3 separate regions of the Homo sapiens genome follow, and all the other regions are linked to region 1. The links come from fine-mapping of genetic effects on gene expression. A gene starts in region 1. Each other region holds a variant in brackets. All regions are shown on one strand. Distances are from middle to middle. Region 1 holds the start of YEATS2 (YEATS domain containing 2). Region 2 overlaps YEATS2 (YEATS domain containing 2). Region 3 holds the start of YEATS2-AS1 (YEATS2 antisense RNA 1).

Region 1 (2,760 bases):
GACCTCAGGTGATCCGCCCGCCTCAGCCTCCCAAAGTGCTGGGATTACAGGCATGAGCCACCGTGCCCAGCCAGGAGGATCTCTCGAGCCCGGAAGTGTGAGACTAGCTGTGGTGATAGTGAGACCTGTCTAAAAAAACCAAAATTAGCCTGGGGGTGGTGGTTCACGCCTGTAATCCCAGCACTTTGGGAGGCTGAGGCGGGTGGATCACCTAAGGTCAGGAGTTCGAGAGCAGCCTGGCCAACATGGTGAAACCCTGTCTCTACTAAAAATACAAAAATCAGCCAGGCGTGGTGGCGCGCGCCTTGTAATCCCAGCTACTTGGGAGGCTGAGGCAGGAGAATCGCTTGAACCCGGGAGGCGGAGGCTGCAGTGAGCCAAGATCATGCCACTGCACTCCAGCCTGGCAACAGAGGGAGACTCTATCTCAAAAAAAAAAAAAAACACAAAAAACAAAACACCACTTATATTTATTATGCGTTGATAAAAACATTAAATACATTAAAAATTTGGTAACATGTATGTAAAGTATAAAAAAAAAAGTGAACTTCCTAAACCCACCACTCAGCTCCAGTAGTAAATCGTTATACAGTGAGAAGGGATTGAAGGGGAACAGAAGTTCCCCAAGACCAGTTGGGAGGCTATTCATAGTCTTGGGCAGAGAGATTACAGGGTCTTGGGTAGGGTGGTAGAGTTACAACGAAAGAGAATGTTGGCCTCAAGTGATATTTAGGTGGAAAACTGGACTTGGATTGTCACTAGCTAGTGTGACTGAGATAAGTCTCAAGCCTTCCCTGCCTCAGTTTCTTCATCTGTAAAATGGGCTAGAAATAACTACTGTTATTTTGTATACCCAGCACTTAGCACATGGGTTGGCACAAAGATGGCACACACAAACATCATAGTCACTATTGTGATTAATAGGGAAGCTCATACACGCCGGCAGAATGAATATTCTGTCAAACTTGGGGTTGAAATTCGCCATCTTCTGGGGCAGGAAAGTGATGGACGACTGTGCCTTTGCAAGAATCGACGCCCACACTGCCCAGGAAGTGCCCTCGCGGGCCGGGGTCCCAGCCCGGACCAGCCCCGCCCCGCCCCGCCCCGCCCTCATCCCTGGGAGCTCCGCCCCGAGGCCGCGCGCGCCGCCGCGCGCGCCCCGACGCGCCCAGCTGCTGACGTGCGGGGCGGAACGCGCCGGGCGGGCTCCACCGCGCCGTGTGCTTCCGCAGGTTGCGGGGGTCGCTGGGGCCTTGTGGCGGGGCAGCTCCGCGGGGCTTCGCCCGCTCTCTCACCTCGCCGTGCTCTCTCGCGGCGGCCGGCGGGGCCCGCGCTGCAGCCGGAGACCCGGAGAAAGGGTGAGTGTTGGCGGGCGCAGGAAGGGACCGGCCGGGAGCGCGCCCCGCTCTCCGGGGCATTGTTTGGGCGGGGGCGGCGCGGGCACGTGCGCGCCCCTCCCCCATCGGCAGGCAGCGCGGCAGCGGGACCCGGTGAGGCCCCGGGGCCGAGGGGAGGGCAGGGAGGATCCCAGGTGCGGGCCGGGGAGCCGCAGAAGCGGGAGCCTGGAATTGGAACGTGAGTTGGGGGCTTCCTCTTCAGCGGGGCGCTGCGCTGAGGGGATACGGGACCCCGAGCCACAGCGGCCGGAGCTTTTAGGATGTTAAGCTCTTGGCCTTGGAGGCAAGATTTGGCCCCAGCACCAGAAAGTCGTGGGTTTACCGAAAGGATCCTGGAATGCCCCTCCAACCTGTCGCCATCCCCACCGGGCCTCCCTGGGATGGAGGGGAGGGGTCAGAGAGGCTTTGGGGGTCCAGGGATGGGGCCGGGGCCAACGCGCCGGAGCTGCGGGCAGTGCGGGGCGGAGTGGAAGCCTCGGAAAGTGAGGACTCCTGCAGGAAAGGCTGGCTTGAAGGGCTGTGGCCAGACTGCAGAAGACAATGAGGTTTTCTCCATCATGAATGTGATTATGTTAAGAAATAGAAACCAGAGGAAGAGAAATGCCATCAGCAATCTTACAGGCCTGACACATCATTTTTTTTTAGTTTGATGTTGGCTAGTATTTTCATCTAAGCATTCAGCAGTTACAGAGTTGACCCACGTTTTCCATTCCCTTTTCTCGCTCACATGTAAAAAATGCGGTATAATATTATATAGAATTCAGCAATATCATTTCCCCTTTCTTAATGAGTAGAGGGTATTCAGCGTAGAAAAATTTAAAAATACAAGCAAAGCCAGAGAAAAATGCCCGCAGTTTTACGATCTAGAGATACTACCCTTGGATGTATATTCCTGTTTGTGTATACTCTTTAAAAGATAGGGCAGATGATGCCCTGATAAGGAGTTTAGTTTTTCCCGGGAAGCCTTTGAAGGTTTTGAGAAGGCGAGTAGCATGATCCGACTGCTATGTAGAGGAAGAGGGCTGGGGAGGAACCTACGAGGTCAGTTACTGTGCTCTTTGCAGTAGCTTGGACTAGGCCCGTGGCAGGGAGATGGGGAAGTATAAACAGATTTTTAAATGTTTTAAGGTAGAATGAACAAGACTTGGATTGGTGAGGGAATGGTGGGAATCTTTGCTTTTTTGATTTTTGTTTTGAGCAACTGAGTAGGTGGTGGTGCTGTTTACTGAGATGAAGAATGGAAGAGAGAAATTTGAGGTGGGAAAAACGAATTCTATTTTAGATGTATTAAATTTTAGATGCATGTTAGTTATGAAGTCGGTGTGTTGAGGCAGTTGGATGTAGAGGGCTGGAACTCAAGGAG
Region 2 (2,760 bases), 25 kb after region 1:
TATTACATTTTACTCTTATGTGGGGACCATTTTATATATACAGCTTTTTATTTGTATTTTTATATTTCTTTCAGGGATATTTTATTTAGAGCAGTTGATATGTTTGTGTAAAGCAATGTGAGACTTTTAAAGTCAGATTTTATTTTCTGTGTTAACATATATTATTTCTCATTTACCTCCGGAAGACCCTACATCTCTAGCTGTTAGTGTTAGAAACTTTACATAATTATTCATCATTCTAGTTTTTGTTTGGTTGGTTCAGGCTGTGCTAAGGGGTTGGGATATCATTTTATGGATGTGGGGAGATTTTGAAAGATTTTAAGCATGATCCTGTAATAGATAAGGTTTTGGAGAGATCAGATTTTTGCCTGCTTTTGATGGATTTGATTAAAAATTTATTTGCTTGCTTTCATTTTTTGTAGGGATCAAAGACATGTGATACAATGGTTTTTAATCATCCTGCTATCAAGAAATTTTTGGAATCACCATCTAGGTCATCATCTCCTGCCAATCAGAGAGCAGAAACACCATCAGCCAATCATTCAGAAAGTGATTCTTTATCTCAGCACAATGACTTCTTATCTGACAAAGATAATAACAGCAATATGGATATAGAGGAAAGACTCTCAAACAACATGGAGCAGAGACCAAGCCGAAATACTGGAAGGGTATATAGATGGGTGGATGTGGGAGGGAGCCACAGGAGAAGGGAACTATATTTACTAAAGTATGCGCTTGTTATCTCACTGAACTGTCACAGGAATCTTAGGAAATAGGTTTGTTTTCCTTTTATAATGGGGAAACCAAATCTTTTTTTTTTTTTTTTTTTTTTTTTTTTGAGACAGAGTTTTGCTCTGTTGCCCAGGCTGGAGTGCAGTGGCAGGATCATGGCTCACTGCAACCTCCGCCTCCCGGGTTCACGCCATTCTCCTGCTTCAGCCTCCTGAGTAGCTGAGACCACAGGTGTGTGCCACCACGCCCGGCTAATTTTTTTATATTTTTAGTAGAGACGGGATTTCACCGTGTTAGCCAGGATGGTCTCGATCTCCTGACCTCGTGATCTTCCCGCCTCGGCCTCCCAAAGTGCTGGGATTATAGGCGTGAGCCACTGCGCCCAGCGGGAAACCAAATCTTGATTTGGTTTTACTTGCCCAAAAGTGTCAGAACTGCGAATTAAACCTAAGTGTTTCTTTTTTTTTTCTGAGACGGAGTCTCGCTTTATCACCCAGGCTGGAGTGCAGTGGCGCAATCTCGGCTCATTGCCACCTCTGTCTCCCAGGTTCAAGCTATTTTCCTGTCTCAGCCTCCCAAGTAGCTGGGATTAGAGGCATGTGCTACCACGCCTGGCTAATTTTTTGTATTTTTAGTAGAGACGAGGTTTCACCCTGTTGGCCAGACTGGTCTCGAACTCCTGACTTCATGATCTGCCTGCCT[C/T]GGCCTCTCAAAGTGCTGGGATTACAGGCGTGAGCCACCGCGCCCGACTTAAACCTGAGTGTTTCTAATTTTACAGCCTGGAGATTCTGTGCACAGCACAGCTCCTGGATGCTGTTTACGTAGGTGTGAAAGAAACCTTCTAGCTCGGCAATTCCGTGATCTTGCTCAAGGTCTTTCAACTCTGTCGTGTTTATTCTCTCGAGAGCAGCCGTTCTTCAACGGTTTCCTCTGTGAGACTTTATATTCTAAGATGCTTTAGTACTTTAGTAGATGGAGGAAATTTGACAAATAAACAGAATTGAAAAACATTGCTCTTTGATCATGCCAGTTTGTAATTTGAGCTCCCATCTCAAGCTACTCTGAACTTCTTGAAAAATATTTGGCTATAGAGTCATTATTGGATTAGAGCAGCGATTTTTCTCAGCCAGGTGTTGACTGTGATACAGAAAATTTCCAAGTTACTTTCCACATACTTAGATGTCAAGGGTTTGATTTATTTTTGATAAAAATATGTTTGTATTTATTTTTCAGATTATAAATTCATATGTGTTCATTTTTTGAAAATTGTTAAATACAGAAAAGTAAAAAAGAATAGAAAAGTTCATTCGTGAGGCTGCCACCCCCAAAATCAGAACTCTTCACTGTTTGGATTTACCTTACCTTTCCAGTATTATTCCTGAGCAAATATTACATGTGTTTTTCTTTTTTTTAGTTAAAAAGAATTTAGGAGGCTGGGCGTGGTGGCTCACGCCTGTAATCCCAGCACTTTGGGAGCCCAAGTGGGGGATCACCAGAGGTCAGGAGTTTGAGACCAGCCTGACTAACATGGTGAAACTCCATTTCTACTAAAAATACAAAAATTACCTGGGCTTAGTGGCGGGTACCTGTAATCCCATCTACTCGAGAGGCTGAGGCAGGAGAATCGCTTGAACCCAGGAGGCGGAGATTGCAATGAGCCGAGATCGTGCCATTGCATTCCAGCCTGGTTGACAGAGCGAGATTCTGTCTCAAAAAATAGAATTTAGGGCATAATGGTCATAGAAACTTAACATGTTTTATACAATATGTGATCATTTCTATATGTATTTATATAGCAAACATTTAGCATTTACTATGTACCAGGCACTTATTTCTCATTGAACAGTTTTGAATATTATAAAAGGTTAAAAAGAGGGTAAATTCCATTGACCCCTTTCTCTCTTTCTATTCCTGTTTCCCAGAAGTAACCACTGTAATAGTTTTTTGTGTATCCTTCCAAATCCTATTTGCATATTCAAAGCAGATGTATGTGACTATTAAAAACACACCGGGAGTTACAGTATATAA
Region 3 (2,760 bases), 110 kb after region 1:
TATTTGGGCTTAAGTTCTCTCTTTTTGTTTTTTTGTTTTTTTTCCTTCTGATTTTTAAATGGACTAAGTTATGTTTCCTCTGAGTCATGTGGTTTCAGGTGCCTCCTAAGACGTATTCTGGGGGTGGTGGTCAGTGTGCTCGTTGCTTTAGGAGGTGGCAGAGACAAAGCCTATGGTTTTCTGTACACGTCACAACAGCAAACAGCCCCAACTGTCCTGACCCTGGCAAGGGGACGAAAATGCCGCAGCCTCCTTCCCCAGCCTGATCCTAGCTCAGCAGTTCCTTTCCTCGTGGATCCTCTCCAAGAATAGGGATACCTCCGTAACAACTGCTTTCCTTAAATACAATGTCTAGGGCTGGGCGCGGTGGCTCATGCCTGTAATCTCAGCACTTTGGGAGGCCGAGGCGGGTGGATCATTTGCAATCAGGAGTTGGAGACCAGCCTGGCCAACATGGTGAAACCCCATCTCTACTAAAAATAAAAAATTAGCTGGGCTTGGTGGCGCTCACCTGGTAATCCCAGCTACTTGGGAGGCTGAGGCAGGAGAATCGCTTGAACCCGGGAGGCGGAGGTTGCACTGAGCCAAGATCGCGCCACTGCGCTCCAGCCTGGGCGCGAGAGTGAGACTCCATCTCAAAATAAATAAATAAATAGAATAATGTCTGATTAATGAAAATCACTCCAATTCATAATTTCTCAGAATCATGGCCTTTATCATTATGGTCTATTATTGAGGCCTTTAATTTTTTCTTAAGGACTTTTTAATCCCTAGTTGCAGTGGTTTCAAACATTTGGGGTAAGGGATGGGGTTAAATGTGTCCCTTCTTGCCAGCAAGCAGATGGCCATTTGAAGAATAACAGCATCTTCCATTGTAGGCTACAGAACAGCTGGTGAATGATATCCTGAGACAGGCTTTGGCAGTTGGATACCAGACAGCTTCTCACAACAGGTATTACTATCTCTGCAGTCTGTGGTGTGAGGCTTACACCTCTTTCCTAACAGTTGAATTGCCCATGAAGGTGTTTTATACTTACATCAATCCAGTAGGAGATGGAGTGAGTGCTTAGGACACTCTTAGAGCCAGATGAGCTCAAGGGTCTGCTTTGTCATTTTTAGAGAACCTCATGGTTGTGAAAGCTCACTCAGCTTTGCTCAGAGGTTTATATCCTCCTCATTACTTCACAGACACCTAGGACTCTGTTTTATTACAGGGTTGAATAAATATTAGCTTTGCAATTAAAGATAACAGTGTCCATTACATGTCAGACACGAGGGCCAAGCGTTGCATATATTACCTAATTTGTTTTTCATTGCAGAACTATTATTCTCTTTTTAAAAATCAGGAAACCGGGCTTTGAAAGGTAATTTTACCCAGCTTACCCAGCAAATACAGTGTAGACCTGGACTTCCGACTCAGGTCTCATTGGCTCTGAGGCCCCTGGGCTCGCCACTGCTCTTTGCTGACTCGTTGTCTTTGATTAAGACACTGAGTTTCAGTCTGTTCCTAGGCCCTGAAAGGATGGTAGATAGGCCACATCTGCTTTTCTTTCGGAGGAAACAAATATTATTTTATTGCATTATGCTAAAGGCTGTCACAGATTTATAAAA[T/C]TGTAGCAAAGTGCCTGAGGACATGAAGGGCCTAAATCAGAGGAATAGTAGATGAAACTTCACAGGAATATATCAGACAACATAGGCGTCTTTAGAGAAAAGGAAGGGGAACCAAGAGTTCCGGTCCTGCTGCCCACTGTCCTGCTTGGACCCACAAGTGAGCCAGGGCCTCCTGTGGCCCCTGCTTACCTCTGTGCTCCCTGTCCTGGAGGGGTAGAGTGACTTAGGTGCTTTTGATGGAACGATTAACATCACGCCTGGCCTGGCGTGGCTCCGTCTCCCGTCTTTCTAGGAGATGGGAAATAAGGTCCCAGAGTTTTGTGGTGCTTTGACTCAGCTTTCGGTCTGCTGAGACTCACTCACAAATGTGTCATTCCGTTCTGCCATCCGCTTTGTTTTCTTTCTCTTTTCTCAGTTCTCAGAATCTTTTTTCCTAATTATTCAACCAACTTGTTGACATCCTTCTCATGCCTATGACAGGAAGGCAGTCCTCACCCCAGAGTGGCCCTAAGCTATGTCTGTGGCTCAGGAGCCCTCTCCACGGGGCCTCTGCCTGGGATGGTCCCTGTGATGAGTTAAGTGAATAAATGATGAGATATACGTGAGAGAATTTCACCTGGTAACACCCTTTGTTTTTTGGACCAGGATTCCCAAAGAAATTACAGTGAGTAATATTCACCAGGCCATTTGCAACATTCCTTTTCTGGACTTCCTCACAAACAAACACATGGGAATATTGAATGAGGACCAGTGAGCGGAGTGAGGTGCCCTGGAGAAGCAGGCTTTGAAGGCACAGCGAAGCTGTAACTGAGGACCCTGCTGCTCGGGAAGGAGGTGGTTTCCAGTGTGACTCGGCATGTCATGGCTACCCAACCTTTGCCGCTGCCTGTTCCCACGTGTCACCAGCACGCTGCACTCCAGATGAAATCCTCCTAGGACAGGAGTTTGTTTCCTGAGTGTGGAGTGAGGCTGTCAGTGGATCCGTGCTTTGTCGGCCAGCGTTTCTGCAGTCTTTGTAAAGGCCCCACGAGAGCGGGCCAGGCCGTGTGCCTCAGGCCCTTCTCCCTGGGTGTGCTTAAGGGGGCTCCTTGGGCCCGCCTCCCCAGGAGGTAGAAAATGAGTGGCAGGCTAGAGATTTCACCCATTTTG

What was found. PIP is the estimated chance that this variant, and not a neighbour inherited with it, causes the effect. A credible set is the group of variants that fine-mapping cannot tell apart.
Region 2: its variant is the best candidate, but not a certain one, in a credible set for the expression of YEATS2 in whole blood (TOPMed, PIP 0.68).
Region 3: its variant is the best candidate, but not a certain one, in a credible set for the expression of YEATS2 in whole blood (INTERVAL, PIP 0.58).

What each region holds. Positions count from the first base shown.
Region 1 is chr3:183,696,636-183,699,395 of GRCh38, forward strand. It overlaps YEATS2 (YEATS domain containing 2), which reads left to right and starts at 1,162. Exons shown (of 31, transcript NM_018023.5): 1 at 1,162-1,358. RefSeq lists a silencer at 1,067-1,536.
Region 2 is chr3:183,721,469-183,724,228 of GRCh38, forward strand. YEATS2 (YEATS domain containing 2) reads left to right here. Exons shown (of 31, transcript NM_018023.5): 5 at 423-668. Among named protein-coding and RNA genes, the nearest start is that of YEATS2, 25 kb to the left of the region's middle. The variant C/T (reference allele first, on the strand shown) is at 1,435.
Region 3 is chr3:183,808,219-183,810,978 of GRCh38, forward strand. It overlaps YEATS2 (YEATS domain containing 2), which reads left to right. Exons shown (of 31, transcript NM_018023.5): 30 at 879-952; 31 at 2,257-2,760. The coding sequence ends at 2,365. YEATS2-AS1 (YEATS2 antisense RNA 1) reads right to left here and starts at 2,233. Exons shown (of 3, transcript NR_046727.1): 1 at 1,801-2,233; 2 at 512-634. RefSeq lists an enhancer at 1,416-2,615. The variant T/C (reference allele first, on the strand shown) is at 1,612.